Linked DNA regions of Homo sapiens: regions 2 and 3 are each linked to region 1. The links come from fine-mapping of genetic effects on gene expression. A gene starts in region 1. Each other region holds a variant in brackets. All regions are shown on one strand. Distances are from middle to middle. Region 1 holds the start of GDF7 (growth differentiation factor 7). Region 2 overlaps LDAH (lipid droplet associated hydrolase). Region 3 overlaps LDAH (lipid droplet associated hydrolase).

Region 1 (10,651 bases):
GAGCTTCCGAACCTGGCAGATCCTATCCCACCCCAATATCCTGTTAGATCAGACTCAGCCGTTTAAAAGAAAAATATCCTTTCCACTTTCCATAACATTTCCTATTGGAATTGATTAAAAAAAAAAAAAAAAAAGGCGGGGGGGGGGGGGGGGGTGGCGGTACCGACCTTTGCAGAAATCTGGGAAGCTCCACAACAGCTACTTTCAGACAAAACTTCCCTTTCAAAAATGAAGCAGGGGCACGTTAAATTTTAAAAGTTAAAAAAAGAAAGATGCTTTTTGCAGCAGTTCCAGGGTAAACGGCCCCATGCAACACAAACCCTCGGGAAGGGCATTACAGCCTTGCAGTGGGTCACGGAGTGCACCACGCGGCGCTCAGCCCCCCAGGGAAGCGATGCCCCACATCGGGCCAGAAACAAAAGGGGGTGAGATAAAGCATGCTCGAGTACCCCTTTGGTTCTCCCATTCTGGAACTTCGAATTTCCTAACCCGTTGTTGCTACCTGATTTTCGTGCCTCTAACTGCAACATCAGCACAAACACCTTCCTCTCCCTAAATGGGGGCAGTGGGCGCCATGGTTATCTGTTTGCAAAATACACAGGGCTTTGACATTCGGTACCGGCAGGTCATCTCTTCCCAAGGCTTTCACATGCTGTCCCCGGTAAATGTGTGCGTGACTGCACGAGTGTGTGTGAGTGTGAACGTGTGCTCTCCCTCCTCTGAGAGGGTGCTGGGTCACATCGGACATGCACCCACGCTCGGTGACAGGGTGGCCCGCTGCTGCTCATCAGCTGGGGATCCTCGGCCGCGTGGCTGCCCCCTCCCCGGCCCTCGCGCTACCTGCAGCCGCAGGCCTCCACCACCATGTCCTCGTATTGCTTGTAGACAACGTTGTTGGCGGCGTCGATGTAGAGGATGCTGATGGGGCTGAGGCGCGCTGGCACACAGCAGGAGGCCGGCGCCGCGTCTGGTGCCATGGAGTTGAGCAGCGTCTGAATGATGGCATGGTTGGTGGGCTCGAGGTGCGAACGCAAAGGGAAGTCGCAAAGGCCCTCGCAGTGGTACGCCTCGTAGTCCAGCGGCGCGATGATCCAGTCGTCCCAGCCGAGCTCCTTGAAGTCCACGTGCAACGGCTTGCGGCTGCAGCGGCTCCGGCCCCTGCGCCCGTGGCCCCGGCCCGCGCCCCCGCCGCTGCCCTGCGCTGTCCGCGTCCCGGCCAACGCCGTCCTCCTCCGTCTGCGGCCGCCAATGACTGCCCTTGGCGACGCGGTGCCGGTTCCTGGGTCGGGCAGCGGCTCTGAGGCCAGAGCGGCCCCGAGCGCGCGGGCCTGGGCGCGGATCTCCCGGAATAAGCTCTCTTTCCTCTGCGTGCGGGAGGAGACGACTAGCACCGCGCGCTCCTCTGCCGCAGAGCCCCCTCCGCCCGGCCAGCCGAAGCCCAGCCGCCGCAGTGCCAACGGGCTCGGCACCGGGCCTGCCACTGCGCGCAGCAAGAGGCAGAACGCGCGGGGGGGGCGCGGTTCACGACGGTGGCGCCTCATGGCGTCCGCCACGTCGAACGCCTCCCAGCGCTGACCGACTAGGGGCTCAGCTGCCCGCGAGTACAGCAGGCGTGGCGCTCGGGCGGCGCCCGGGCACGTGGACAGCAGCAGCAACGGCGGAGAAGTCCAGCTGCCTGGGCCCGACTCTGGAGATCCCCGGCGCAGCACGCGCAGCTCGGCACCCACCACCTCGTCTGCGTCGTTAAGGCTGGACACGTCGAACAGGAAGCTCTGGCCTGTTTCGGCTGCCGATTCGTCTGCGGGGGACCGGCAGGGACAGAGAGAAAGAGCTGTGTAAGAGCAAATCCTGCACACTGTCAGCGCGGGGCCTCCTAACAGCAAATGGCCCAGCTGTCTTCGATGTGGGAGCCAGGCCTGTTGGAGCCAGCGCCCGACTCCGCGTCTCTGCCCCAGCCTGAACGCTGCCAGCCTGGCCCAGAGCAGCGGACGTCTTCGCCCGGGATATCCGAACCGAGCTTTGGTTTAGCAAGCCAAAAGTCCCATCAGGCCAACAACCCATGGTCACTGCATATCCCTGAGCCGCGGGACCAGGAGCGCACCCCTACACCCAAGACCAGGACTGCAGGCTGCTATAGTTCCGCGGCCTGACCCAGAGCCGCGGGCCAGAATCCGAGATCAGAGTCCGGGGCTGGGTTGAAAAGAAGTCGTGCACCCCCTCCTGAGGTCCTGGGCCTTAAGGAGACTTATCGTTATTGCCCTGCTGATCCCCCAAGAGAGCCGAAAGTCCTGGCTGTGCGAAAACGGAAAATTCTGGTCTCCTGAAAACTCTTCTGCTACCTCTGTTCCCCCAACCCAGCCTGGACATCCCTGCTGGCCACGGTCTCCCATGCAGGCTGGGGCTCGGCGATTCGTCCGGGAGAATTCGTCTGCACGGCCGCAGAGACCTTCTAGTCCAACTTCGCTCTGCCGAAGGGGAACTGAGGCCCAGGTAGGGGCCAGGCTCGCCCAAGGTCTCAGGTCTTGCAACAATGGGCGCTGCTGCTCGCGATCGCAACCCCAAATGCACCTCCTCCCGGTGCTCTCGCGGCCTCCGAAGGAGGGGGAAAGGCAGTAAAGGAACACAAGGAACCTCCCGGAGGGGTGCGGGGCATCCCGGAATGACCTTGCTGCAGTGAGGGCAGCGTCCCAAACGAGGTCTCGCTTCCAGGAGCCGCCTGTCTGTCCCTTCGCGGGCTCATTCTTCCCTCTGTAGTGACTTATCTCGGGCTTAGGGGTTTTATTTCCAGTGTGGACACTCTTTTTTCTTTTTCCTTTTTGGGCTCAGAAAAAAAAAAAGTTTAAAATTCCACCACGCAGCAGATAAGGAGCTCCCTTTGAAGGGGGTCATATGGTTTCGTTTTGCCCCTAAACTCGGAGAGACTATGCAGAATCCCCCCACCACTGGGGATTTGCTCACCAGCCACGAAGGTCAGGCCCTCATGCCTGAGGTCCCGGTTCTATCCCTATCAATGGCTTCTGGGGACCTCAAGCAGCCCTGTTCCAAGTTGAGACTCAGGGTGGAGAGGGAGGCCGGAGAGGCACACTGGGGCTGCACGAGGAGCACTTTCTCTGAGATTCCCTGCAGATCCTCTGCCTCTCCCTGCTCACCAGCCCTGCCACTCTGTTTCCCCCAAGAGGGAGGAGGGAGAGGAGGCCTCTCAGGCTCAGCCAGCCAAGCTGAGCTCCCCAGAAAGGATTTATCTCCTGTCTGAGACCATGGTAGAACTAGCTCAACCTTAAGAAGACTCTGGTGCCTGTGCCCACTTAGAGCCCAGCACACCCCCCTTCTCCTGCAGCCTGGGACCCTTCAGTCCCTGTCCCTGTGCACCAGAACTAGGGCGTCCTATAAGTATCCCAGCATCCAGCCCAGGGGCCATGTCAGGCCGTCAGAGAAGGCTTGATAGTTCTAACCGAACCACAGGGCCATTTGGGGATTGGGTACCAAGATTTCCAGGTACCAAAAATAAGGCAGTCTGTGCTAGGCACTGGGCATGTGCTGGCAGGGATGGATGACCTGGTCACTTGCAAGGCCTCTGCCTGCCTTCCCAGGCTAGGACCTGAGGTATGCTGACTGTCAGTGGCTCCCAAGCAGGGCTGCCTCAGCCCCACCCGCTCACTTCCCAGCCCTATTCGCCTTTCTTTCCCTCCTGCCCTCCATGCTGGGTCTCTGGCTGGATAGAATTAAGGCCGAAATTACTTGCATTTCCGCCTGAAATTAGGTAAATTTTCTCTATCTGTCTGCTTTAATGATTTCAATGGAGATTAATAAAATCCAGATGACATACAGCAGCCACACCACAGCCTCACCTACATCTTACCTTTGGAAGGCCCAGGGCAGAACAAGGTGGGGTGCTTAGTCTAAGAGAGGCCTGCATTCCTGCAGGGTCCCCAGCAGGCCTCTCCTCCCCACACCACCAGGATCCTTGACCTCTGGCTCTCCCAGGGGCCCAGCACCAGACACAGGCACCCATAGCTGCACATGTCACACACACACAAACCACCACCACCCAGACCAACCTGCTGAGCAGGGCACTCCTCATACCTGGTTATGCCACCAGCCTCTCCAGGGCCATTTACTTTAGTCTGATACCTGCCTCTGCCCTAGTTTTCCCTGGGCTTCCCCCAATTTGTGTGGCCCGCAGGAGACTGGGAGCTGCAGAAATTGCTGCAAGGAAGGAGCCATCACCCTCACCACCGTGCAGTCCCTCTCGCCGTGACTCCCGGGAACACAGCTCTTGCCCTCCTTTCTTCTCTGAGGGCTCCGAGGCCACTCCAGACCATTCCCCAAGAAGCGAATCTTGGCCTCCGCCTGCCTCCTCGAGGGGACCAGCCGGCCTGCAAGGCCAGGGAGACCTGGGAGAGGGACCAGTCAGCCCTCTGGGACTGGGCCCCGGGAGCTGCCGCGACTCTCGCCACAGTCCAGGTGCAGCGGGCTGGAGAGTGTTGGCCTCGGCGAAGTTTCTTTCTATCACCTGAGGGTGGGCCGCATGGGGCCGCGGCTCCAAATGTAACGGAGCTGCGGCACGGCTCCGGGGCTGGTCTCAGCCCAGGACCTGACGGGATGGGCGGGCACAGAAGAGGCGTAAGTACCTTGGGTCGCCTGGTCTGTGAAGCCGGTGATCGTGTCCGCGCGACCATGGCCCGAGGCGGAGACAGCGGCTGCCCCGGCCGGAGCCCTCCCGGCCAGGCTCCGGTAAAGCGACATCATGAAGTGGTGCGGCACCACCGAGCCGTTCCTGAAGCCGGAGCCCGCGGCGCGGCGCGCGGCGCGGGCCCGGGGAACCGCGGCGGCCGGGACAGCCGCGGCGCCCGCAGCCTGGGCAAGAGTCCGCCCGCCGCCGCCGCCGCCGCCGCCGCCCCCTGGGCTCCGGACCGGCCCAGCCCCCGCCGCTCGCAGCACGGCGGCCGCTTCCAGCCCGTCGCGGGGGCGGCAGGCGCTCAGCAGCCAAAGGCACAGCGCGGCGGCGGCGCTCAGGTCCATGGGCTCCGTGGGCCGGGCGGGCGGGCGGCGCGGGCTCCGTGGCTCCGGGAAGTCCCCCGGCGCCTTTTGAACATAGTGTTTAATAATGGGGGAAGTGTGCGCGGCCAGCCCGCGGCCCCCCCTCCTGGCCCACCCCACCCCCGCCCAACGCCCGGAGCAGCGCCCCCTGCTGAAAGCTCCGGCGGCCGCTATGCGCCCCCCACCCCGGCCTAGAGTGGAGACCAGGGCCGGAGCCGCCTCCTCCCACCGCAGCGCTACGCCCCCACCCTCGCCAAGCGACTGCCACTGGCCCCAGCCTCCCGACACGCCTCCCCGCGGCAGTGCGACACCCCCTCCATCCGCCCAAGACCAACGCGCCCTCCGTGGTTCCAGGCTCGGGGCACCGCGCGCACCCGCCCAGCTTCCTCCCCACTCCCCCGCAGAGAAACACCCGCCCCCTCCCTGCCCTGGTTCCCAATGCCGGGAACGGGGCGGCAGAGTTGGGGCCGCGGAAGGGCTCGCCCTCCAGACCGCTTCGCGCCGCGGCCGGGTGGCCGCGCAGAGAGAGGCCACAGGATGCTCCCGGCGGCCTCAAAGTCGCGTTCCGGATCGCGGGTCGGCGGTTCCCCACTCAGCCACAGACCCCAAAGGATTGCAGCGGGCGGCCAGAGCAGGGGAGGGGGCCGGTAGGGGAGGAAGGGAGGGCGAGGAGCTGAAAGGGCAGGCCTGTAAGAGACCTTTGGACGCGGACCGCCCGTCGTAAAAGCAAGGTTTGGGCGCGGAAGTTGCGCTTCAGCGGGAGCCAAGCTCTAGAAAGAGCTCGAAATGAGGACGGCAGCCCCGGGTGATGGGGGATCTCGCGCGGGAGTGCGCTAAGAGTTTGGCTGTGCGTCCAACTGGCGACCTTCCACCCGCCTTCTGGGCGAGGGCAGCGGCTAACGAAAACCAGCTACCGGCTGTGTGCGTGAGCGGCCAGGAGCCGGGAGAGCGGACGGCGCAGAGCCCCGGGATGGCGCCTCCGAGCTTCTTACCCCGCCGCGGTGATGGCGCGGGTCCCGAGGTGGATGGAGGGGACGCCCGGCAGCGGCGAAGCCCTGGGGCGCACTCGCGCGGGCCGCAGAGCAGTTTGCTCCGCGGCTGGGACAGGTTGCGGAGGCCAAGTCTCAGGGGAACGCGCAGGAGAGGGGGGTTATCGGCTCTGCTCCGCCGGCAGCCTGGACATCCCCCTAGATCGGAAACTTTCAGCTGATCGAAGGCCTGGGCCAAACGAACTGCCGAAGAAGGGCAGGCGGGTCCTTTTCCTTTAAAATTGCATTTTCTGCAGAACTCAAAATCTAGACTGGGTCGGCACGTCGTGATCACCTTGAGCGGGTGATCAGCTTCAAAGCGAGGTCGCCCGCCGAATCCAAAGCCGCCTAGGTCCCGACGCCTGCCTGGCTGCGCTGCGCTGGGACCCACAGAGAGGCCCGGCCCAGGCTCCCCAGTTCCCCTGCTCCACTGCTTCGTCCCAAACGAACTCCTCAGCCATTGCCCTCTCGGCCACCGCGGAGACGCGGCGCCTGCTCACCTTGGGGCATTGAGCCGCATAACACTCGAGAATGTTTGCGGGTGGGAGAGAGAGGCCTAGTGAGGTTCAGTCCTCGCAGACCCCAAGGCCGATCTATGCCAAGGAGAAAGGCCTGACATTACCGGGAAGGGCGGACCCCTGGACCAGGGTCAGCGCTGCCGGCGCTGAGGGACTTCTCCTAGCAGGAGCCTGGGGAATCTGGGATGATCGAGCTGGGATAGTCCACCCTGCTTCTAGGACTGGGATTGGAGAGTCGGTGACAAACACCGCCGCCCCCACTCCGCCAGCCCCCCGGTCTCTCCCTGACGCGGATGCTGGGTCCTACTGTGTTACTTGGCTTCCTTTCCCCCTGCAGCCATGCGCCCGCAGTGTTTGGGTGTTTTACAAATCAACTCGGCTAAGATTTGTGCAAACACGCGGGGAGTCCTGGGTGACAGCAAGTCGCTTGCCTTGTCTTGGCTTCAGTTTACCCGGCTGTGTAGAGCAGAGAGCGGAAGGGTCCTAGCACATTCTTGGCACAGCCAGTGACAAACGTTTGTTGATTACATGACACCCCTGCCACGTTGGGGCTTAGGAATGAGGGATGCACCCTTGCTGTCATTGTGGGAGCAGGCCACTTAGCCTCTTGGAGACCGAATTTCCTAATCTATAAAATGAGCGGATTCTCACCTCATCCTGTGTGTGGCTGGCATAACAGGCTGGCACAGAGGAGGTGATGTAGTCTTGCCCCCAACCACCAGTGTGTTCCCAGTGCCAGGGGTGATCATGGCAGAGAGAGAAGCAGCTTCTACGCACCTGGAAGGCTTTGGAGGACACACATGGGGTGGGCTAATGCTGCTGGAGCCACTGTCCACTCGCTGTATGTGCTCCAACTGAGACTTCACTTCTCCCACCTGTGCTTCTTGGTCTGTATGGTGAGGGCACAGTCATTTATTTATTTATCCGTCCCTCTATTCATTCCTTCTTTATGTAAATACTCATTGCCAGGTAGCCTTCGGTGCATTGTGGATTGAGCAACGCACAGGGCGAGCACATGGAGCTTTAGGATGGACACAGGAGACAGCCAACAGGAAGCGCATAAATGCACAGTGTGCTATCCAGTGGTTCCGAGTAAAGTGATGGGCTGGGGGGCTCTGTGATCAGCAGAGGACACATTGGAGCCGAGCCCAGGAGGAGGCAGAGAGGATGCATGGGTCATGCCTGTCTCCCTCGCTCCCTGTAAATAATGATAGTGCCCATTCGTTGTCCCTTGAATGTCAGGCACCTTGCCTGCTGCTCCACACACCTCATGCCATTTCATTCTCACAACTACTCTATCCTGTGAGATGGGTATTCTTCCCATTCTATAGAAAAGGAAAGTTGAGCTAAAGAATTCAACACCTTGCGCAGAGTCACCTGGAGAGTGGCAGAGCATGGAGTCATCAACTATCCTTGCTCAACCCTTGGCTTGGGGCTGGGGGATGGGAATGTGAGGGGCTTTGTTCTGCCGCCCTGCTCCCCAGACCCCAGTGGAGAGGCAGAGTATGCCTGCCTTTCCTCTCTGGCTTTCTAGAAAATTCTTGGCAAAGAAAGGACCTCTCTAGTCCAGGTGAAGACTATGAAAGTGTTACCCAGGGGACTCTTGCCTGCCACTGCTCGCAACTGGAAGCGGAAAACACTTGCCATGGAAAATAGCCTGTCATACCAGCAGCAGGACCTGCCCATGACCCAGGTCTCCAGGTGCCCTGCCCAGTTGGGACTTCCTCTTAGGTGATGTGGGGATCCTTAGGTCGATTGGCTGGGCAGGAGAGAGCTAGTTTGCACAGCCCGGAGCCCTTGAAGCTGTGCACCACATGCTAACTGCACTAAGAGCCTTGAGAATGAAAACCTTCCTCTGTGTTGCCCCAGCCATCACTGGGGAGCAGATGAGGCCCAGAGGCAGATGTCAGGAGCAGAGATCAGAGAAGGTTGGGAGAAAACTGGGGCCTGAAAGCCCTAACTTTAGTTCTTCATCCATCTGATCACCCCCAAACCCCAGACCTCCAGACTCCAGCTGAGTCCTCCTCAGAGAGAGAAGGTGAGATTGCCTCCAACGGAGGGAGGAGGGGAAAGCAGCCTGCTTGGGGCGATGTTTGACAACTGGGATGAAGAGGGGCAGTTCCCACATTCCCGCCCCAGACCCTTCCTTGCAGAGCACTTTGCTGCTCTTCCACCCCTTGCAGAAGCTGTTTGTTTTCTCTGAACACCAAGTCCCTGATTCAGTCATAGAATCCAAGGATCTGAAAACAACTTTTGGGGTTATTATTTAAGCCAACTTGCCATGCATGCCTGAATCATAACAAATTGCTTCCTGGGCTGCACTTGCATACCTGCAGAGGTGGGGAACTCCCTATCCAAGGCAGCCTCTGATACCTCTGAATGGGAGGAAGTTCTTTTTTGTTCTTTTTTTTTTTTTTTTTTTTTTTAGGAGACAGGGTCTCCCTCTGTGGCCCAGGCTGCAGTGCAGTGGCAGAATCATGGCTCACGGTAACTCAAATTCCTGGGCTCAAGTGATCCTCCTACCTCAGCCTCCCTAGTAGCTGGGTCTACAAGCACAAGCCACCACACCCAGCTAATTTTTAAAAATATTTTGTAGACACAGGGTCTTGCTGTGTTGCCAAGGGTGGCCTCAAAGCATCCTCTTGAGCCCAGGCTCAGTCTCCCAAAGTTCTGGGATTACGGTTGTGCTTTCCTGTACCCGGTTGTGAGGAAGTCCTCTCTACTACTACTAGGAGAGCCACATCTCTCGAAGGTACCTTTGCTGTGGGGAGTTTGCATGTCATCTGGGAACCTACAACACTAGATTGATACTACTTAGGGAGTTAGTCTTGGATCCCGCCAGCTACAGCCATTTTGAAGCGACTGTCAGGTACGGGAACTTGGGCAAGCCCCAGCTGTAGCCTACTCAGCCTTGCCCAGGGTCTCCTGCCATACCCAGACACCTGGCCCCATGTCTGATGACAAGACAACTAAAAGATCCCTTAGAGGCAACCTACTCTACATTGTCCACATGCAGAAGCCAAGTCCCCAACAAGGGGATGTGATCAGTAGCCTGTCATTTGGCATCATAGCCATCTTCTATCCTGGGTCCCCCTGTGATCAGGGGCCTTTGTTCTCCATTGCAGCCCAGAGGGTCTTGCCTCACCTCTGCTTAGGGCACCCTGTGGGTGCAACATAATGAGGGTCAGCCTTTGCCCTCCCCTCTCCTCTGTTGGGGATGCTGGGTCCCTGCAGCCATGCACTAACTTGGAACATAAAACTGATAATCCTGAGAGTCAAGAGACCTCAATTCAAATCGTGCCTCTAAACTTGGGCTGCAAGTTCCTCACCCTTCCTGGCTTTAGACCCCAGATGTGCAGTGAGGCTGACAATCAAACGTCCACAGGGTTTGCAGTGAAAGACGGGAAGAGTGTGAGATGGGTCCACTGCCTGGGACCCAGCCAGGAGCCTGTCCTCTGTCTGGACCCACCGTAGCCTCTGGGCCTTTTGACTCAGAGCTGGAGAAAGGTTTGGAGGTGAGGAGATAGGGCTCTGGGTTAGGTCTCCCAGGGAAGGCAAGGGACAGAAGTTGATGACAACAGCCTGCAGAGCCATCCACCCTCTCTGGGTCTGGTGATGATGGACTCCTCTCAGTCCAGAAATCTGCTGCAAATGTCTCCCACAGAAAGACCTGGGACAGCAAGGTGGGAAGATTGCAGCGGGCTCTGGCTTAGCCCCATAGGATGCCCAGGGCTGGGCTTCCTGAAGCTAGAGGAATTTCCCAGGCTCAACTGGTGATACCCGGCCCCAGGTTACTCAGAGCAACAGCTCTGGCATCCACACTGGGGTCAGCCACAGCTCTGGCCCCAGGCCGCTGGGCGTGGCCTGCCCCTGTGCCCCAGGCTACCGGGAGGGGGAGGAGAGGCAACAGAGAAGAAGGGAGAAAGGTAGCTTCTTTACCAGAAGCCTTCCAAAAGGGACATCTCAGAGCCCTTGGGTTTGGGACGAATCAGGGAGGGCTGGTGGACACTGCCATCTGCTGGTTACTTGTTGTAACAGCAGTGCAGTGTTGAGGAACTTCCTACT
Region 2 (10,651 bases), 38 kb before region 1:
GTGCCAGTGCTTCATTACTTTTTATTGATGAATAATATTTCGTTGCATGACTTTACCATGTTTTGTCTTTCCATTCATCAATTGGTGGACATTCAGATTGTTTGCACTCTTTGACTATTATGAATAATATTGCTGTAAACACTCATGTACAAGTTTTTTGTGGACTTATGTTTCTAATTCTCTTGTCTATAGGTGGAATTGCTGGGTAATATGGTAACTCTGTATTTAATATTTTAGGGAACTGCCAAACAGTTTTCCAAAGTTCCTGTACCAGTTTATAATTCTAACAACAAGACATGAGGGTTACAGTTTCTCCACATCTTGTCAACACTGGTTATTGTTTGTCTTTTTTTATTATAGCCATCCTAGTGAAGTAGTATCTCATTGTGGTTTTGATTATATTTCCTTGATGACTAATGATGTTGAACATCTTTTCACATGCTTATTGGCCATTTGTACAGATTGAATATCCCTTATCTGAAATGCTTGAGATGAGAAGTGTTTAGGATATGGGATTTTTTTTGGATTTGGAAATATTTGCATATACATAATGAGATATTTTGGGAATGGGACCCAAGTCTAAACACAAAATTTACTTATATTTTATATACACCTCATACACATAGCCTGAAGGTAACTGCACAATATTTTTAATTTTGTGCATGAAGAAAGTTTTGACTGCAACCCATTACATATAGTCATGTGTGAAATTTTCCACTTGTAGCATCATGTTGGCACTCAAAAAGCTGAATTTTGGAAGATTTCAGATTTTATGTTTTTACATTAGGGATACTCAACCTGTACATCTTCTTAAGAAGATATTTAGAAATGTCTGTTGCAATCCTTTGCCCATTTTCAATCAGATTGTCTTTATTATTGATTTGTAAGAGTTCTTTATATATTATGGCTAGAGATCTTTATCAGACATATGATCTTTTCCCATTCTTTAGATTGTCTTTTTACTTTCTTGATGGTGTCCTTTAAAGCATAAAAGTGTTAGTTTTGATGAAGTCCAATTTATTTATTTATTTTTGTCACTTGTGCTTTTGATGTCATAGTTACAAACCATTCTGTAATCTAAGGTCACAAAGATGTATTTCTCTTTCCTACTGAGAGTTTTATAGTTTTAGTTGTTACATTTAGGGCTATGATCCATTCTGAATTTATTTCCTATGTCATGTGAGGTAGTGATCCAGCTTCCTTCTTTTGCACATGTATATCCACTTGTCCAAGTTCCAGTTGTTGAATGTTTATTAATTTTATTATCTTTGTCATTTCTGCATCAGTTTTGACTGATCAGTTTTTCTCCTCATTTGGGTTGTATTTTCTTGCATTGCATGCATGATAATTTTTTATTGGATAGCTTACATTCTGAATTTTACCTTGTCAGATGCTGGATATTTTTGTACTTCTATAAATATTATTGAGCTGTGTTATGGGACACAGTTTTGTTATTTGGAGACGGTTTGATACTTTCTGGTCTTGCTTCTAGGCTGTTAGTTGGTACCAGAATGGCATTTGGTTTAGGGCTAATTTTACTCCACCACCAAGGCAAAAACCTCTCTGAGTTCTCTAGTTACCAGTCCCCAACCTTTTTGGAACCAGGGACCGGTTTTGTGGAAGACACTTTTTCCCTGGACCAGGCTGGGGGAATGGTTTGGGGATGATTCAAGCACATTACATTTATTGTGTACTTTATTTCCATTATTATTAAATGTTAATATATAATGAAATAATTATACAACTCACCATAATGTAGAAAAGTGGGAGGGAGCCCTGAGCTTCTTTTCCTGCAGCTAGACAATCCCATCTGAGGGTGATGGGGGACAGTGACAGATGATCAGGCATTAGATTATCATAAGGAGCACGCAACCTAGATCCCTTGCATGCTCAGTTCACAATATGGTTTGCACTCCTCTGAGAATCTAATGCTGCCAGTGATCTGACAGGCGGTGGAGCTTAGGCAGTAATGCAAGCAATGGGGAATGCCTGTAAATACAGATAAAGCTTCACTTGCTTGCCTGCTGCTCACCTCCTGCCGTGTGACACAGTACTGGTGCTGCTCTAGTGGATGCATTGTTGGTTGTGACGTTCTCTGGTGGACTGGTAGAAACAGTGACTATTCTCAATTCAGGGATTATTCCCTCTAATTCTTTCAGATGATTCCTTCACCCAGCTTCTCAAAATTTCTCATACAATTGTGCTGATCTGCACCTAGCTGAAATTCAGGGGGTCCCCTCTGCAGATCTCTGGAGCGTTCTCTCACTCACTACAGCTTTCTCCTTCTACAACTCTGCCCTACCAAAAACCACTGCGGTAGCCTCCCCAAACTATCACCTCTATCTCCTTGATTACAAATGCATTGTTTTAATCAGGTGTGTTAACATGGCAAGCATGGAGACAACTGCCTTTGAAAGAAGAGCTACTTAGAATTCTTGAAAGGAGGGGGCATTGCACACTAGGCAGGGCCTCATGGGGAAGCACCCAGTTGGGGAAGGAGGCAGAAGGAGCACAGGAGAGCATGGCCCAGAGCCTTCATTGTGGTCCCCATGGGAAGGAAGGGATGAGGCAGTTTAGGCAGCTGAGCAGGTTTAGTTAGGATTGGCTGGTATGAAAAATTTTGGTGGGCTTTGAGCTATAGGAGTAGTTCCTAGATGTCTTGTGTCCAGCCCTGAAATAATTCCCAGCAGGATTTAGAGTGATTTAGAGTATTTGGCTTGTTGTGTGAGAGTTTTCTAAGGGAGGTGGTTGGTGGGTATGGCCTTTGGATTGGTTGTTTGCTCAATATGAAAGAAATGTTCACCGTGGAATCATTTGCTATCTCTAAGAATTTAGCTAGTCATGGGAGGGGCAGCCTCTCCCCGACAAGCAAGGCCTCCAAGATGTCAAAGCATCATAAAATGAAGACAATAAAAAACAATTAATGCACTTATCAACTGAGGGAGATTACCAAGCTCTGCTTGTACTTCTCCTTCTTGCACTGTAGCCTGAAAACTTTTCAAATGATAAGCTGAGACAATCATAAGACTCCTCTCATTCGTTTCTCTTTTCTCAGGGATTGCTGTCTTTTTGTTGCCCAATATCCAGTGTCTTGAAAACTTTTTTCTTCATGTATTTTATCTTTTTTTTTTTTTTTAGTTGTTTCAGGATTTTAGGTAGGAGGGTAAATCCAGTCCCTCTTACTCCATCTTGTTCAGAAGTAGAACTATGGAAAATCATTTCCATTTGAAATTAAAATTCAGTTGAGATTTTTGGGAACCAATAACAGTTTAAACAGGTTTGGCTTCTATATCGATAATTCAGCAGTCTTTATTAACAGATTGGAGTGTTAGAGCAAGGTAGCGAAAAGACAGAGCATCTAAGCCAAGACAAAGGATGGGTGGGAAGACTTCAAGTAGACAGAATGCCATGAACAAAATGGCTGAGGATGCAAATTTTATGTGTTTAGAGGATAAGTAGCTCACATTCACTGGAAAGCATGAGTCTTTAAATGAAGCCAAGCTTCAACATAGGTTGGGATCAGATTTTGTAGAGAAGGCTAATGGGAGTTATAAAGAAAATGAGAATTTCTCTTTCAATAAAATCTGTCTTTTCCTCATGGTGTTCCCCAAACTTTTTTTTCTCCTAAGCCCCCACTAATATTCATTTTTCATTCCTTCACCTTCTCCTAATATCTAATCCATTTCTTAGCTCTGTAAGGTCGGCCTTATTTGTAGCTCTAGAAAGAACTTCACTGCTCAGTAAGGTAGACATTAGCCATATGTGGCTATTTAAATGTAAATGAATTAAATAAAATTGAAATTTCAGTTCCTTATTGCCCTGGCCACATTTCAGGTGTTCAAGAGGCACATCTAGCCAAGGGCCTTTGTATTGGTTGGATAGCACAGGGAACATTTCCACCATCACAGAAAGTTATATTGCATAGCACTACTCTAGAATGTGCTCAGAGGCAAAATTTTAAATTTCATATGCGGTATAACTATGTGAAAACTAAGACTTAACAATAAAATTTTAAAGATTTAAATGAAGTCATCAAAATAGTAATATTGATTATTTTTCACTAAGTTCTTGCTAATCATTTCTTCTACTCATATAATTTCTGCATTTTATATACAGAGCACATGTTTATAGTAGGAAAAATTATGTCTTTGATCATTTATTCTTTTTCATACTATAAGCACTTTAAGTCTCATTCTCTCCCCCACTAGACAATATAATAGTATTCTAACTAGTCTCTTAGAAAATAATACAAATTGAAAAAGAGAAAGGCTATAGAAGAAAAATGACAGAGGATTAGTCTAAGAGAGCCAATACCCTACTAGTAGGAGTTCCAGAAAGAGGGGATGGAGAAAACAGGGGAAGAAATTACCAAAGAAATAATAAAAGAAAATTTTCCAGAAAGAAAGTTGGTAAGTCCAAACAGTGAATGGGCCCACTGGATTTCCAGTCTAATTAAGGAATAGAAGACTTGTATTAGGGCATATTCCTATGAAACTTCAGGATTCTAGAGCTAAGACAGCTGAGTTTGAGGATAAGGAGATGGGATAGGGGCAGGACAAAGGGAAGTAGTCACATTCCAAGAAACTAAAATTGAAATCATAAACCTTGGATGCTGGAAGATAATAAACTTGAGGGTAAGCCCCTTTCAGCTTAAAATTCTATATACAGCCAAACTATGTGATTCATGTGGGAAAAGAAACAAAAATTAGACATGTAAACATCTATAAAAATTCCTGTGTATCTTTTTATTAGTTACTGGAAAATGTGCTTCAGTAAAGTAAGGGAATAAACCAAGAATGAGAAAGTCATGAACAGAATCCATAAAACAGGGAATCCAGTCCAGAGAAGTGGCAAAGGGAAGTCCAAGGATGACAGCTATGCAGCAGGCCTGGAGAGCAACCCGTCCAAGATTGGATCAAAAGAATGGAAGGCTCTGTGGGGGGAGGGACAGAATAAATGAATTATTGGATGTGTTTGTACATTTGGGAATAAAATCTGATGCATTTTTGAAGAAAGAATTTTCATTGTCTACTCATGAGAAAAGAAAATCAAGTAAAGGCAACAAATAATTCTAGGAAAGACAAAATGATGTACAAAGAAAGAAACTATAACCTATTTGAAAGGGAGGCAGGGAAGTGAGAGGAGAAGAAAGGACAGGCAGATCACCTGGGATTCCATCAACCAGAGATAACGTGTTATTATTTTATTGTTTATCTTTTCAAATAAATCTGTACCATACACATAATGTATCTTTACAATAGTGGGATCATACTGTACTATTTCATGGTTTGTTTTTTGTCAGTTACTATTATTTTTAAATATGTATTTGACATTATATATTCTGCAGGATAATTTTTAATAGGTTATAGAATAATTAATTTAGTGAATAGACCATAATGTATTAATCAAATCTCTGTTGCTTTAATTTAGTTGGTCCTTATAAATTCCCTGAAATATAGTAAAACAAAGACAGTTCTGATTTTGGAACCGGGACTTAGAGTCTTATAGTCCAGCTTCTTAGTATATAACTGCGACTAAATATCCTGTTCTGATTTAGGAGATTAGGCCAAGAAAATGCAGAA[T/G]ATTTACTCCTATATGTACTCATGCTAATATCACAGACAGACAAGAATGATTAAAGTGCTACTTTTTAGGATTATATCATGGCTATATTTAAGGGAGCATCTCCTACCCTATTCTCTGTCTAGAGTGCTGCTAACCCAAGTATCTGCATGGTCCATTTTCTCATTTCATTCAAGTTCTTCTCTGTTCACACATCCCCTTATCAGGGAGGTCTTTTCAGTGAATTTTACATAAAATAGGCCACCTCTGTCACTGCACAGACTTATCTCCTAAGCTGATTTTATTTTTCTCCATAGCACTTTCTCACCATCTATCATCCCAACACTAAAATATAAGCTCAAGAATAGTGTTTCTGTCTTGTTTGTTGCTCCATCTCCAGCGCCTAAAATAAGGCCTGGCATAAAGTAAGTAGGTGCTCAGTCATCTTTGAATGAATAAACAAATGAATGAGTTAATTAACTGGGACTTAGAAAACAATAGGAACAACCCAAGAAGGCAGTGAAGGGAAATTCTAAGTCGACAGTGGTCCAGGTTAGAGCAGAAGGTCTCAGGGTCCTGGAAAGGAGGTCTCCAGGAAGAATTGACTCAGAAAAATATTGAGTAGAGTTAAGAGGGAAAAAAAGGTAACTGTAACGAAAACAAATGTTGGAGGACAGAGAATGGAAGTGTAAGAGTGGAAGTGTGGTTCTAGATACCACTTGGCTCAGCAGTGAACAATATTCAGAAGTAAAGGTGTAAGTATATTATTTAAGTAAGAATAGAATAATTCAAAATAAGATATAAACATGTTGAGAAGATGGCAGGAAGGAATGGTAGGGCTGTAAAAGGGAGCTAAATCCTCATCTTTCATAGCAACTCAGCAAGGGTAATCAATAAGTTATCAAGAAATGACAAGATGATCGTAAGTGTTTAGAGGTTTGAAGATAACTGGTGGAAGGACAGCTAAAAGAGTTCAGAGAGGCTTCCTCTAGGAAACGGGTCTAGAAATGGGAAATGATGGAAAAGAAAACTATGGTTTGGCACTACAACCATTTCTGTGATATTTGATATGAAACTATATATGTGTATGTGTGTTACCTTGATAAAACTTTAAACAAGGAAAGCAGAGGCAAAATGTAAAAATTAATAATCTGGGAGCTGGGTGCGGTGGCTCATGCCTGTAATCCCAGCACTTTGAGAGGCCAAGGCAGGCGGATCTTCTGAGGTCAGGAGTTCAAGACCAGCCTGACCAACATGGTGAAACCCTGTCTCTACTAAAAATACAAAATTAGCGGAGTGTGGTGGCGCATGCCTGTAATCCCAGCTACTCTGGAGGCTGAGGCAGGAGAATTGCTTGAACCTGGGAGGTGGCCGTGAGCCACGATCGTGCCATTGCCCTCCAGCCCGGGCAACAAAGAGCGAAACTCCATCTCAAAAAATAATAATAATCTGGAACTAAAATTCCAGATGGTTGAAGCAACAGGGATGGAGGCAGGATGGGAGGAAGGCATGGGGAAAGTGCAAGTATGCTAAGGTCATGCCTTGTTTAGATGAGTAATTCCAGACAGCAAGAGAAAATAAAAAGTAAGTTTGCAGTTTTTAGGTAAGGCTAACCACTAGATAAATAAAAATGGAATTTATACTTTCAGATTGTTAATGAAAAGAAATTTGTTAAATCCTGGGTGGGGAGGAAAATTCATCATTCACACTAAAGATAAGAGGCAGAAATAACAAGAAAGCGTAGGGTATATAAAGCAAGATGACTGGCGTCAGACCAAATAGCTTTGATCTCAATATATGTGAATATGTTTAGTCCTTCTATTTAAGAAACAGAGACTTTCAAACTGCATTTTTAAAGAAGTCCACTTACATGATTTCAAGAGACATACTTGAAACAAAATGACAAAAGATTGAAAATGAAGGGAAGGACAGATGCTGGCAAAAAAGAAAGCAAGATAAGAATAATAATACCAGCCAAAATGGAATTCAGGGTACAAAGCATTGAATGAAAATTTTCTTACCAGTACAAGAAAGCCACATAAACTCATGTTATCTCTGGCGTTCTTCCTCTTTCCTAGGTATTTGACATCTTGAAAGTGAGCATCACTTTGCTTATTTTGCAGCCAGTGTAATGGGACTAACCCTATTGAAAACTCCTGGAGAACTTTAAACGTATTTTTAAAGATAAATAATCCTTTTAGTTGTTTCCTTTAAAAAAAAAAAAGCCAGTATATTTTCATGTTAGTAACTGTTTGCATTTTCTTGGTATACATGATTTATTGGTAACAATTTGTACTTCTAAGCCTTAAATCGAAATAGCACATATTGGTCTGGTAAAATTGCACACATCATCTGCTGTGGTATCTGACATTGGGCTGTGGCACTGTTAAACTTTTGCTATGGAGAAGCCAGATGAGGTTGGAAGAAGGTTCTTTTAAATGAAATGCTCTTGTTTCCAGAGACTGTGTGCATGTTGCCTGACTCACATTCCTCTGTTGGCCTCACCAGTATCTCTCATCAGATAGCACGTGCCAAAAGAAAGGAGGAACATGAATTTACTAAAATTAATTTGAAATTTGTGTTTGTTCTATATATTCTAAATGTTTGACTTTTTATTTTTTAAATGTAGCTAATGCTGCCTACCTTGGGGGCCAAGAAATGATGGAGGTGGTGAAGAGAGATGACGAAACCATAAAGGAGCATTTATGTAAGGTAATCACTTTAGTGCTGCAAGGGGATAGATAATAAGTAGATGGGCAGAGATACGAGGGCAAAGGACTAGAACTAGTTAGAATCTGTAAGACTTTAAGGGTTGGTAGAATGACATAGAGTTCTACTTCCAGTTAAAATTGAAATTATCCCTGAAAGTTGTGTAGAGAGTAGTAAAGCTAATTGCATAATAACTTATTTTTTTATCACCTGTTTTTGTTGAATTAATTTTAGAATCAATACTTTTCTATTTTGTCAATGCATTTTAGCCTCTCTAGGCCTTCTACTGAGAAAACTCCATAATATTTATAGAATAAATAATGTTGGAATATAAATGAAACAGTGGAAAATACATTATATGTTATATGATCTCATGACTAGTGAGCCTTTCTTATTCTCTAATGTGTTAGAGTAGGAATGTCCTGCTCTGACCCTAAGACCAGTTTTGTGAAATATTCAACATTTGGGAGTTATGCTGCAAATACTAGAATCTTGCACACACACATCTGGAAGCACCAATCTCTGAAACTATAAGAGTAGGGTTTAGTATATGTCTAAGGTCACCCTAGAATTTGGATGACTGTGGTACTCCTGTGGCATCATTTGTCTGGCTGTCCGTTCTGAGTAGGACAGAACTGTACTAATATTATAGCCACTAGCCACATGTGGTTATTTGTGGCTAGCCTTAATTGAGTTGTGCCATAAGTGTAAAACACACATTGGATTTCAAAAGTTTAGTTCCCCCAGAAGCAAAGTATTTCATTAATTTTTATATTGATTACCTGTTGAAATACTACCTTAGATATAGTGGATTAAGTAAAACATATTATTAAAAGTAATTTCACCCATTCCTTTATAATTTTTTAAACATTGTAACTAGGAAATTCTAAAATTGCATATGTACCTTGCTTTATGCTTCTGTTGGACAGCATTAGTCTTAAACTTTACAATTGGTGCTGAACTATGATACCTGCTGAAATGATCCCTGCTGAGTGGCAAACTCTCATAGGACTCAGGAGCAATCCACAAGTGAAATACGAGATAACCCACTGGACTTAGAATGTCTTTATAAACCTTGATACATTTGACTTAAACTTTTCTACATTGTTAATTCTTAATTCCATAACCTCCCAGTACAATTATCTTAAAACGAGAAGTGTATATGTTCTTAAAATTTTTTTTTTAGAATATTGAAAATATTCACCCAGAGAGGACTTTTGAAAATGCCAGTGTTGTTTTGTCTCATGGCCATAGTGGTCATCATATTTCTGAAATAGCAGTTGGCTAGAGATTGAAATTTGGAAACCAGAAGGAAGCCCTCACTAGCCGAAGGGAGAGTGCTGGGGCCTCAGGAGGGCCCCCTCTCCAGGGCTTTCAGCTACTTCCAGTCACTGAGCGATGTGAAAATACAAGAAAAACAGTATTTTATTTTCCATTTAAACTGTAAGTGAATCTGTTTCAAAAATGCATTTAAGTTCTTCCAGGTTGGGAGTTCATAAAAACAGCTCAACTCTCAGTTAATAATAAGACTGGCAGATGCTCACTTCCAAAATTCACACTTGCTGAACAACTAGACCCATCATGTGTCAGAGTCTGCTTTACCACCTGTGGAAGCCAGCTGCTGTAAAATACTCATCATTTCTGGATTCAGCTTGTGTGTTGTGCTCAGAAAAAGGTCAAAGAAAGGTGCTAACTTATTCCTGTCCCAAGTGAAATCCATATGCAAGTGTAATCATTCCCAGATAGAGGGCTGTTCATGGTAATTATGTCAGGACTGTAAGTTTACTGAAATTTTATGGGGAAATACGGGGGTGTAATGGTAAATGGTAGACATTTCAAGGTTAGTATTAACACACAGTCACAGGAATAAACTTTTTCAACTCCAGGCAATAGTTTTGTTTTTGAGATAGCATTAAATATACTTCTAGAATATGGGGAAACAAAGCATTGTTTCATTTAATCATGCAAAACTACCTTGCAGTTAATTCATTATCCTTTCTACCAGCAAAATTCAAGCTCTCCACTAGAATAATACAATTACAGCTCCTAAGTGAAACTAGGTACAGAGAGACAGGAAGTTTATTGCAACTTTTTGTTTCTGTAATAAAAAGAGGAAACATGCTGTAATTTAATATTGGTAGAAGTTGAATCAACATATGTCCCAGTCTGCTTGAGAAAATAAGGAAACTTAAAAGTGCACATAGTTCTAGGAAGATAGTGGGCATTGCTTCCTGCCTTCCAAACACCCCCGATAACTGGTCAAACTAAAACCAATGCCCGGGATTAGAAATATTCCTATTTAGGTATCTTAATCGAGGATACTCTTTCCCATTTCCACCCAAACAAAGGCGTTCAGAAACTTCAGAACTATCCAGGACTGTCC
Region 3 (10,651 bases), 26 kb before region 1:
AAGCTTTTGGATTCTACTCACAATGATGTTAAGTGCATAAAATACACAAGATTACAAAAGAAAGAAGTTGTTGGATAATGAGATATAATAGCAGTCAGAATTTTTTTTTAATTTGTAATGATAAGTATAATGTTTTAGTTACCTTGAGCAAGTTAGTGTGATTTAAAAATACTTATCATTTTTATAGATGACAAAATATAGGCATTACTAATATTGTAGCTTGTTGCCTGTATTCCTAATTGAAAGAAATACTAAATTTTGGTTAGAGATTAACAAAAGTAAACATGTAAATTTTTCCAAAGTTTACATAACCCCTTCTCCAAACCTCTGGACCTGTACACCGCAAGCAAAGAAGCCCTGCGTTAGAGAAACTAGAAAAGGTTAGGTAGCATGATGTTGTGGCTTAGGCACTGGCCTGAGAACAAAAAGTCATGATATGCCACACTGAAGAGACTGTTTTGGGGAGCTATTGAAGGGTCTAAGCATGGGAGTAACAGGGTGACAGTCAAAACATTTGACAACCATGTGATATAGGGATTGACCAATCAGAATGTATGCCAGCTATGAACAGCCAGTTCAGGGGCACCAGTTCATATCAGTTAGCCCTAGGAATTTGGTGAGATTAACAAATGAGAGGGATTATCTTGAGGGCAAATGTGTGGTATAATACTAGAAAAGGATGAAATATGAGTTGGGGAGCCTGTTTACAAAGCTTTTATAAGAACTAAGGCATTGGGATTGAAGATGGAAAGATTTAGGAGATAGAATCAAAGGTACTGAGTACTAACAGGATATTGGGGAATGGAGATGGAGGAATCTAAGATTATTTCTTTGTATCTGGACTTGGTAATAAGACAGGGAATATGGGAAGAGAAGCAGCAGCAAGTTATGGGAGATGGCTGAACAAGTGGTTCATTTTGGTACTTGTATTTGAGATGCCAGTGGGACATGCAAGTGGATCCGTGTCTGGCAGGCCCTGGATGTATGGGTGTAAAGCTTAGAAAGATATTTGAGGCTGACTTTTGGTTGGGGAGTGATGAGGCTGTAGTTAAAGCCAAGAGCATGGGTAATAGCAGCCTAAAGAAGTATACAGAATAAGGAGAGAAGACTTCTAATGATTGATCATTAGGGAACCCAGCTTAAGGGTTGGGAGGAAGACGAGGAGCCACTGAATGAATAAGATGGGAGGGGAGGTAAGAAGGGTGGGAAGGAGAACCAGGATGAAATAAACCAAGGGAAGAGAATCAACTGTGCGTTTTCGCCACCCCAATCCCAGTTTGTCTGGAAACCTCTGGAGTATTCTCTGTTTCATGAGGCACCTGGTGTGTCAGAGGCAAATAAGAGGTCAGCACTCCCTTGTTCTGTCACTGTTCTAAGCCATAAGGGATGCATGTCTCATTCATTGAAAAGTGAACTCATGTTTGGTTTATAAACTTGAAGTTTTCATTTCAAACCCACTTAGGGGGGGAATTCTAAACTGCCATGACCACGTTTGGCCCAGGCTTACGGAAACAGCTGGTGTGTGCTACTGCCAGACTGAATCTGAGCATCACTATCAGTAAGTAGGAATCTGAAATTGCTCCAAAGAGAACACATGAAGTGCAGCTTTCAGATGAAGTTAGGCAGTGGTAGGGGGGCTGCCTGTAAGGTGGTGCTGCCCCTGCCCCCAGAGGGCCAGGCCAGGGCTACAGTGTGGCTTGGGAAAGGGGCAAGTGTCCTCAAGAACAGGAACTCCTCTGCTATTGCTCTCTCCCCATCCCTCTTAGCCTGCCTTAGCCCAAAGGTGTGTGTTGCCTTTGGGAGCAAACCTTGTGCAGTTGTTTGCAGATTGGGGCATGCAAATCCTTCTGACATGCACATGTCCTGCCTGCTGCAGCATAGGAAATGCTCCCTGGACCAGCTCACCAGGCCTGCCTTTCCGCCAAGCCTCGGTATTCTGAAACGGATTGTGTTAGTTCTGCCTGTTTAATTTAAAGCCTGTCCAGAATGTCATAATCATCCTGAAAATAGATAGGTTTGTTTTTATCTCAATATTGTGACCTTGAAAGCTTTATTTGGGCAATTGTGTGAGCACACTCTGGGGTTCTGCAGTGGAGCCTGGTGACTGAGGGGAGGCAAACGTGCTGGAGAGCTGGGCTCCCAGAGTCTCAGCCAAGCTTCAAACACCAAATCCACCCTTGTTCATGACCCTGCTTAAGTTACCGGACCTCACTGTGCCTCCTTTATTCATCAATAAAATGGTTAATAATAGTATGTAGCCTCATACAGCTATTCCAAAAATATGCTATAATTCATACCTTGTAATTCAGACCTTATAAGAGTATCTCCGCCGGGCACGGTGGCTCATGCCTGTAATCCCAGCACTTTGGGAGGCCGAGGCGGGTGGATCATGAGGTCAGGAGTTCGAGACCAGCCTGGCCAACATGGTGAAACCCCGTCTCCACTAAAAATACAAATATTAGCCGGGCATGGTGGTGCATGCCTATAGTCCCAGCTACTCGGGAGGCTGAGGCAGAATTGCTTGAACCCAGGAGGGGGAGGTTGCAGTGAGCCAAGATCATGCTACTGCACTCCAGCCTGGGCAACAGAGCGAGACTCCGTCTCAAAAAAAAAAAAAAAAGAAAGAGTGTCTGGAATGCACTAAGCATTCAATAAATGTTTTTATTACTATTACAAAGTTAGTTATAGCCTAGTTATGCTTCTAAGCACTTTAAAAAGACTATTTGCCTAACTGTTCCTCTTCTCACATCCCCTTTTCAGATACTTTCATTGTGTTAATGAAAGGTATTAGTGATGCTGAGTATGTGGCCAAGAGACCCCGGAATGCCCAATGCCATTCTAAACAACAGCCACCACTCCCCATAAGATGCCTCAAGGAGCTGTTGTATAGGAACCATAATGAGGGGAAAACACAATAGTACTTGATTTTTACCAAGGCTTGGGCCCATTATTCTAGTCCAGAGAAGTCTGATGAACTGGACTTAGCCCTTCTCTCAGTTAGTTGAGTAAAACCATTCCAGTACATTTGCCCCCTTCTTGGGGCACAGATCCAGGGAAGGACAGAAACACAGAAGGAGACTGGCGCTCAGGGCCTCTTACTTTGCCAGAGGGCCTCGCCAGAGGAAAGCAGAGGCCCTGGGTTAGCATCTCAGTGCAGTCTCACGTGAGAAAGAGACAAGCCAGTCACTTGATGGCCTCGTGGCTTGTATGTGGGAGGGAGAGGATCCTGGCCCTTTACATGTTAGCCACACGGAAAGGAGAGTGCTGCTCTGCACACCGCTGTATACACAGATGGTTGTTCCAGCTACTGGAGAGTGAGCCACACAGTGCCCCATAGGACCTACTCCTCCTTTGGCGCTCCCATTCCCACCGCTCCCCTCTGTGCCTGCAGAGAGAAGCAGGGTTCACGGGCGGGAAGCATTTGTGTTTTCACCTCCATCCTCAGCCACTTTTTAAAAATCTTTGGAGATTTCAGTTCTCATTTTCTCAAGAATGGTAATTGAGCCAGTTAGGAATAAACGGAAGAGAGGAAACAAGGTAACTGGAAAAACTGAAGTCCCTAAACCATCTCCCTTTCTTTAGCAATTCTGCAAGTCCCTAAAAACAGAGGCTCAGAAAGACTGCAGTGAAATGTTGACACTTTGCAGCTGCCTGTGTCCCCAACAGGGATAAGATTTTTTAAGTAACTGAAAGGAGATGCTTATATCACAGAATCGGTTTCCTTTAACATTGCAAGATTGGGGCTTACATGTCTTTGACTCTGAGGGGAGGGGAGAAGTGGAAGCCTGCTGCTGTCATCCAGACTGTCTGGACTCTCCCCAGAAATGGGCATGCATTGGAGGACCTAACAGTTTATATCCCGAGCCCGGGAAAGCTTCAAGGGGATGAAAACAGGAGATAAAGGCAGGGTAGGGGCCCTAGCTGGGAAGTAGGGGGCCTGTATGTGTAGGTACTAATTTGATCCCTTGGTATTCAACCGACTGCTTTATATCTGACCTTTTGCTTTTTTCACAAACAATGAAACAAGCAAAAAACCTGCTCTAGTGCAAATTATTTCAAAGAAGGAAAGAAAACCTGGAGAAAGCAGGAATGACATATTTTTCTTAGACCTCTGGAAGAAAGGCCAAGAAGATAGATCTCTCTCAGAATCTGTGTCACTCCTCTTTGGTCACTGTCTCTAGTGCTGGCTTCCTGGTTGCCCTGCCATGCAGCGTAAGCTGCCAGGGAGCTACAGCTGTTGATGAAGTGCTAACAGAAAGCCTTGCATTGCTCAGAAAAGCGGTGGGCATTACCTTCACTGCTGCAAGAACCCACAGGCTCACCCTGTGAGCTCACCAGGAAGAAAAGTAACTCCCAGAATGTCGGTGCCTTTCTTCATTTGGAAGATGCTCAACCAAGGATAGCCAAAGGGCACTATAGCTTAGGCTCCAGGTCTCCTTTATGAGGAAAAGTAGGTTTTATTATAAAAGTGGAAGTATAGAATCCACACCAAGAGCTGACTGTTAGTGGCGGCTTGAGGATAGGGATGTGCTTCACTGTTTATTTGGTTGGCGACTTATCTTCTACCCCACCTGTCTTTCTCTACAGTCATGTCTGGGGAATATGACATGTACATTTTTTAGATAATGAGTAAGTATATGGTAAAACAACTTTG[T/C]TTTATATTTTAAAAAATGTTTAATACTTATACATTTTCTGAGCCTATGTCAAAAACAACTTATCAGAATAGAATATATTTTCTCAAAGGCTAATGTAAGGTCATGTGGATTCTTTTTCCTTGAGCAGGGCACAGCTCCCACCCACCCAGCCCACCATTGCCCAGTCTGTGTCGAGGAGCTCCCTTTGTCCTCACCTGTAAAGCAGCAGCCTTTAAGAGTGCCCACCATGTGGAAAGCACTTGATACACTTTGTTTTCCAGTCCTCAGCACTAGCCCACAGGTAACTAGTTCTGTCTTACTTTACAGATGAGTAAACAGGCACAGGGAAGCTAAGTAACTGGTCCAGGCTCACAGCACCAATAAATGGCAGAACCAAGATTCCAGTCCAGGTGGATATGGCTCAGGGACCTGTACAGTCTTAACACTGTACTCACTGCACTACGCTCTTCTTGGCTGCATAAGGAGCTTGAGTAGTTTCACAAATTACTTTAGAATAATATAAATACAATTATTTTACCACACTGTGATATAAAGACATTATGAGAAGCCCTTTCACTCTCAGCATGACACCCCCAGAAATGCCGTTTACCACCCTGCTCAGGCCTGCACTATATCACAAAACAGGCACCCCACAAATTGACTACCCAAAGTAGTCTGTGCCAAAGGCTCATCAAGCTGGATTTCTCGTTGGAAACATTTCAAGTTGTATTGATGAGATATCGTTTGTACCAAACTTGACTTCGTGGTGAATTATGATTTAAAGAGCTTCTAAAATTCAGTTTATCCATAAGGTTAACACCAACAACAAATATATATATGCAAAAATATATAGAGATGCAAAACTTTCATTTTATTAGCCCTTTTATTCCTGTAATGCCTGTAGTCCTACTGTCCTATTGAATAGACAGATAATTCAGATAGAGATTTTTATGTGTGGCTTTTAAAATTGTTATTATTTTAAGATGTTGCTATGTCATTGAAAGTGAGTTTTGTTATTAGCTAAATCATAAGATGCTTCTAATATTTCTTTGTTCTTACTATAAATCCTCTATTAGTAATGCATAAAAGCATGCAACTCCAAATGTATACTAAAACAAAGCTTTGTTCATGTTCACTCCCTCAGGGCAGAATTTGGGTTTTCCTGCTTTGGGGTCCCGTAGGGCTTTGTCCATACCTCTGTCTGCCTGTTGTATTTAAGAGCCAGTTTATATAGGTCTGTTCTCTCGCCTAGTCTGTGAGCTGTTCCAGGGCAGAGACCATCTTACACACTTCTGAATGTCAGCCACTTAGCCTAGTACCAGATATGGGATGGAATCAGAGTCATTTTTGGTGGAACTCATTTTAATCTATCAGCTTCAGCAATTCACTGTCCAACAGTGCTGTTTGTAGACCCCCCAAAAAGTGGGGAAAAAAAAACACACAGAAGAAAAGACAGATGTGGGGACAAGCTGCAGCAACCTGCAGGGATATTTTAGGAGGGCCCTGTCCCCTTAGGTGCACATTAAACAGTTAAAGGGAAGTTCATCTATAAGCCCAGAGACCATAGTAACCATAAATCCACTTTCCTGCAGAAAACACAGGAGGAAAAGCCAAAGCATGGTTCTGGAGAATCAAAATCTAGACTGAAAAAAAGTTAAATTTTGTGCTTAATAGAAAACAATGGGTTACTTAACATGACAATTTGGAAACAGAAAAATTTCTATCTCAATAATGTATACTTTTTATCAACTCTCATGAGTTCCAAAACAAGTGCTAAGGATAAATAAACTACAGGAAATAATTTATTTTCTTCTAAACCTTTGAATGTAAACATCCTGCTGATTGCCTGCGATTCTTTGTTAACAATTCCAGTACTTTCATGGCAGTTATCACCCCCATGACACACAGTGCCTCAGAAGAGCTACATAGACTGTGAGAAGGCTTTCAGTAAAGGTAGTTGGGAAGGCTGGGTGCTGTGGCTCACGCCTGTAATTTCAGTACTTTGTGAGGGTGAGGTGGGTGGATCACTTGAGCCCAGGAGTTGGAGACCAGCCTGGGAAACATAGGGAGACTTCGTCTCTACAAAAAAAAATTAAAAATTAGCTGAGCATGGTGGCATGCGCTTGTGATTCCAGCTACCCTGGAAGCTGATGTGCGAAGGTCACTTGAGCTCGGGAGGTCAAGGCTCCAGTAAGCTGAGATCACACCACTGCACTCTAGACTGGGCCCAGAGTAAGACTGTCTCAGAATAAAAAAGTAAATAAAAATAAAGGTGGCTGTGTTAGCTCCTGTTGACAACTCTCACACTCTATTAGTTTTCATATCCAGTTTAAGACCTGCCAGTTGTCAGGTTTTATGTTTTTATAACGGGTCTATTTACTGGAATTGTAAGTAGTAGCAAAAGGTACAAGTTAGGAATGTTGTCTGTGGATTTGTAGCCCAGCTCTTCAATGCAAAATTGCTTGAAATAAGCAGGTTAATCTTGCTAAGCCTCAATTTCCTTTTCTGTAAAATATAGATACAATACTTTCCTTAGAGTATTGTTGTGAGGATACAACGAGATAATACATAGAAAGTGCTTACTTAGCACAGAGCCTGGCCATTGCTCTCGGCCCATTGGTTCATCATGGTGCATTGCGATTCATTTTTGCATACCGATAAATAAAGAGTATGCACTGTTAACCACTATGTTTTTGGTGTCCAGTTGTTTCTCTTTCTTTCTACTTCACCCCTCCTCCCCCATCCCCCGCCAGTGCCACCACACACTCCATACTTTCTCATTTTCCTGTTCAGGGCTGCAGGTGCGGAGTTCTCCGGTCAGATCTATTGCCTGTGATTTATAATTTATAGGGAAAAGGAAGTATCTCAAGCCAGTGTATGTAAAGGCATTAGATAACCATGTGTTTTACTTGTAAGCCAAGACTTTCATAGGAAGCCCTTTAGAGAATATATAGCCTGAAAAAGAACTTGTAAAAGAAAACAAAATTTTACAAAACGTGAGCCCACCCCCATCATCAGTTAGGCGTTTAACCAAATGGGGCCCACTTCAAACGTTTAAGGATTGTAGAGAATCGAGAAATAAAATCAGATAAGCATACGGGAGGTCTAGACTCCTCACTGTTCTGCTGTCTTGAACACTGACACCACTCTTTGTTGAGGTTCCTAGCACATGCCTTGGACAGTGTGTGCCCCATAATTACTTGGACATATTTGTCTCTTGATACCCTGAGGTGGGTGTCGGGTCCCTTAATCCATGTTGATCACCCCTGCTCAAATCACTGCCTTAACTGCATGTACGGGGATGGTGTTTGCTCAGTGCTGAGGGCTTATCAAGCTGGACTTCTCATTGGAAACATTTCAAGTTGTAATTGCATCACAGAAAAGTAAATGGTACGTTCTTCATGGAAACAGTCTTTGAAATGTCAGACAGAAAGCAACAGCGGTGCGTACAGTGACGCTTTTCTTGTTGAGGAAACTGTATTAGATGAGGTCTTTTCTGTCTGGCTTTCCTTTGAGCTGACTGCCATTATCATAGGACTTCACACTGTAGCTTGTACTGGAGTGAGGGTCCTAGAGTAGCTTTCTCAGGGTCCAGTGATCTTGAGGCGAGAGCATGCCCTGCAGCAGAGGAACAGACCTGACAGGTATGAACCCAAGTCTGACTTTCCAGATTTCTCAGCAGTGTTCCCTGCTCTGAGGAAGTGCTGAGTAACTGCATAGCGACTGTTCCCTATCCTATTCCCTGAATACAATCGAAAAGATTGCTGGTGGTAAATATAGGGAGTAGCTTAGAGAGAGCCTAATGTTATCAGCACTATTGGTAGATAATTAATACCTGCAAATAGTTTGTACTCTTGACAGTATTTCAAGGCAAAGCTATAGCAGGGTAGTTGCTGAGAGATCCGGGGAAACGTGTTTTTCTACTAGTGGAAAGAATAGTCTCCCACTGGTTGTGAGGTTGCAGCATTTTAGAGCTACAGAAAGAGCTGAGACCAGGAGGAAGAACTAGGCAACTGCTAGGCTCTCATATTCTCTAGGAAGCAAAAGAAGTTCTTACTCTGCTAAGAACCATGGCAAAATGAATTCTGGCTTTAGGGGCTTTGGAATGCCCAGAAATGGTTGGAGTGAGGAAAAGTAGGAGAATGCAAAGAATGAATTAAGTGATAAATCTGTAAGTTGCAGGTCCTCTGCAGCGTGCAAAACTGGAACCCCAGGTAACAACCAAGAAAACCTCCATGAAGCTGGAATACTATGCAGTCATAAAAAAGGATGAGTTCATGTCCTTTGCAGGGACATGGATGAAGCTGGAAACCATCATTCTCAGCAAACTGACACAGGAACAGAAAACCAGACATGGCATGTTCTCACTCATAAGTGGGAGTTGAACAATGAGAACACATGGACACAGGGAGGGGAACATCACACACCGGGGCCTGTTAGGGGATGGGGGGTAGGGGAGGGATAGCATTAGGAGAAATACCTAATGTAGATGACGGGTTGATGGGTACAGCAAACCACCGTGGCACGTGTATACCTATGTAACAAACCTGCACACTCTGCACATGTCCCAGAATTTGAAGTATAATTAAAAAAAAAAAAAAAAAAAAAAAAAGGAAACCTCCATGAAGCAATTCAGAGTAAGTCTGCCACTTGAGGTTTACTTGTTCATAATTTACTCTCTGGAGTACTATGTTAAATTTTTTCCTCTATAAAGTGTTTTTAACTAACCATCTAAATATTGGTTAAGGCATCATGTTATTGTAATGAAGGCCATTGTTTTCGTAAGATCAGTCTCATCTGTCCCATATTCAGGTCATGGATTTAATAATTGATACACTCAAACTATCCAGTGAGCAATAACGCCTGCTTCCCTGCACTCTCCTCCCCCAGCACTTGATCACCTCCAATCCTTCTTCTCGTTGTGGCCAGAGTGGTTTTCCTGACATAGGGACCTCAGCATGTCACTTCACTGTGCAGTCTTTTTTGCCTTGTGGACTTCGGGATAAAGCGCAACCTCCTTGGCATGCATAGAAGATGCTGTCCATGACCTCATCCCTCTCTGCCTCTCCAGTCTTATCTCCCACCACCCTATATTCCAGCCATGTGGAATTCCAGTTCCCCACACATGCCATGCTCTTTCAAGCTTTGGTTTGCTTGGTCTTCTCCCCACAGTGTGCTGCCCCAGCTTGAAGACTCAACTGAGGCATCAACTCTGGGGAATCTTTCCTGCCTACTACTTCTGACCAGCTGCACCTCACCTGAGCTCTCAAATTGTCTTGTATACATGGGGTCCCCTTCTCCCCTCCCCCCAAGACTGTCTTATCTCTATTTTCCAGGTTCCTAATACAAAGTAGGTGCTCCATTTGTATTTGATGAACAAAGGAATGAGTAAGCAATTCAGTGTCTGAATGAAGGAGCACATTTGGTATATTAGGGAAGCTGCAAGTGACTACAGCTGGCCAACTAGGGGCTGGAGCTAGGCATAGCTCTGTCTTTCAGTGATAACAGAGGTCAAAGGATCCTTAAGATTTAGTTCTTGGTTTTTGTAGAAATTGCCACTATCTGTTCTTCTGAATATAAGATGTTGCTTTGTTGCCTTTATTTTTAGAACTAACAGAACTAGAACATAGCAGTTTTTCAGTGAAACACAGCAGCCTAGAGCAATATACATATATATCACATGCAGGTTTAGGTAGATATCCATTCAGGGTCTTAGTAATGCCACAGAGGAGGCTCTGTCTCCATTCAGCTGCTTGCTGTCAATTGAAGTATGATTATTGCACTTCCCCACTGAATCAACATACAGGCTGCATAGAGCCTTTTCTTAGAAAGGTCATAAACTCTCTCAGGATTCTGATCACATTTCATCAGCTACATTGGAAAGCCTGAGTCTATCTGATCTGTGTTTGTATTCATTCAACAAATACATCCCATATGACTACCATGTGGCTATTTGGAAACAACTAAGTTTATTAACTGGTCACTAGTCATTCAGTGACTATGTCTCAATAACTGTC

The links. PIP is the estimated chance that this variant, and not a neighbour inherited with it, causes the effect.
Region 2: its variant is the best candidate, but not a certain one, in a credible set for the expression of GDF7 in T cells (TOPMed, PIP 0.79).
Region 3: its variant is the best candidate, but not a certain one, in a credible set for the expression of GDF7 in atrial appendage (GTEx, PIP 0.86).

The regions. Positions count from the first base shown.
Region 1 is chr2:20,661,611-20,672,261 of GRCh38, reverse strand. GDF7 (growth differentiation factor 7) reads right to left here and starts at 5,118. Exons shown (of 2, transcript NM_182828.4): 1 at 4,632-5,118; 2 at 1-1,798. The coding sequence starts at 5,022. The coding sequence ends at 837. RefSeq lists enhancers at 1,122-2,067, 4,439-4,558, 5,545-6,375 and silencers at 5,039-5,188, 5,229-5,278, 5,349-5,458.
Region 2 is chr2:20,699,190-20,709,840 of GRCh38, reverse strand. It overlaps LDAH (lipid droplet associated hydrolase), which reads left to right. Exons shown (of 7, transcript NM_021925.4): 6 at 8,189-8,271. Among named protein-coding and RNA genes, the nearest start is that of GDF7, 37 kb to the right of the region's middle. The variant T/G (reference allele first, on the strand shown) is at 5,583.
Region 3 is chr2:20,687,424-20,698,074 of GRCh38, reverse strand. The region is part of intron 6 of LDAH (lipid droplet associated hydrolase); the gene reads left to right. Among named protein-coding and RNA genes, the nearest start is that of GDF7, 26 kb to the right of the region's middle. RefSeq lists a silencer at 4,075-4,259. The variant T/C (reference allele first, on the strand shown) is at 4,655.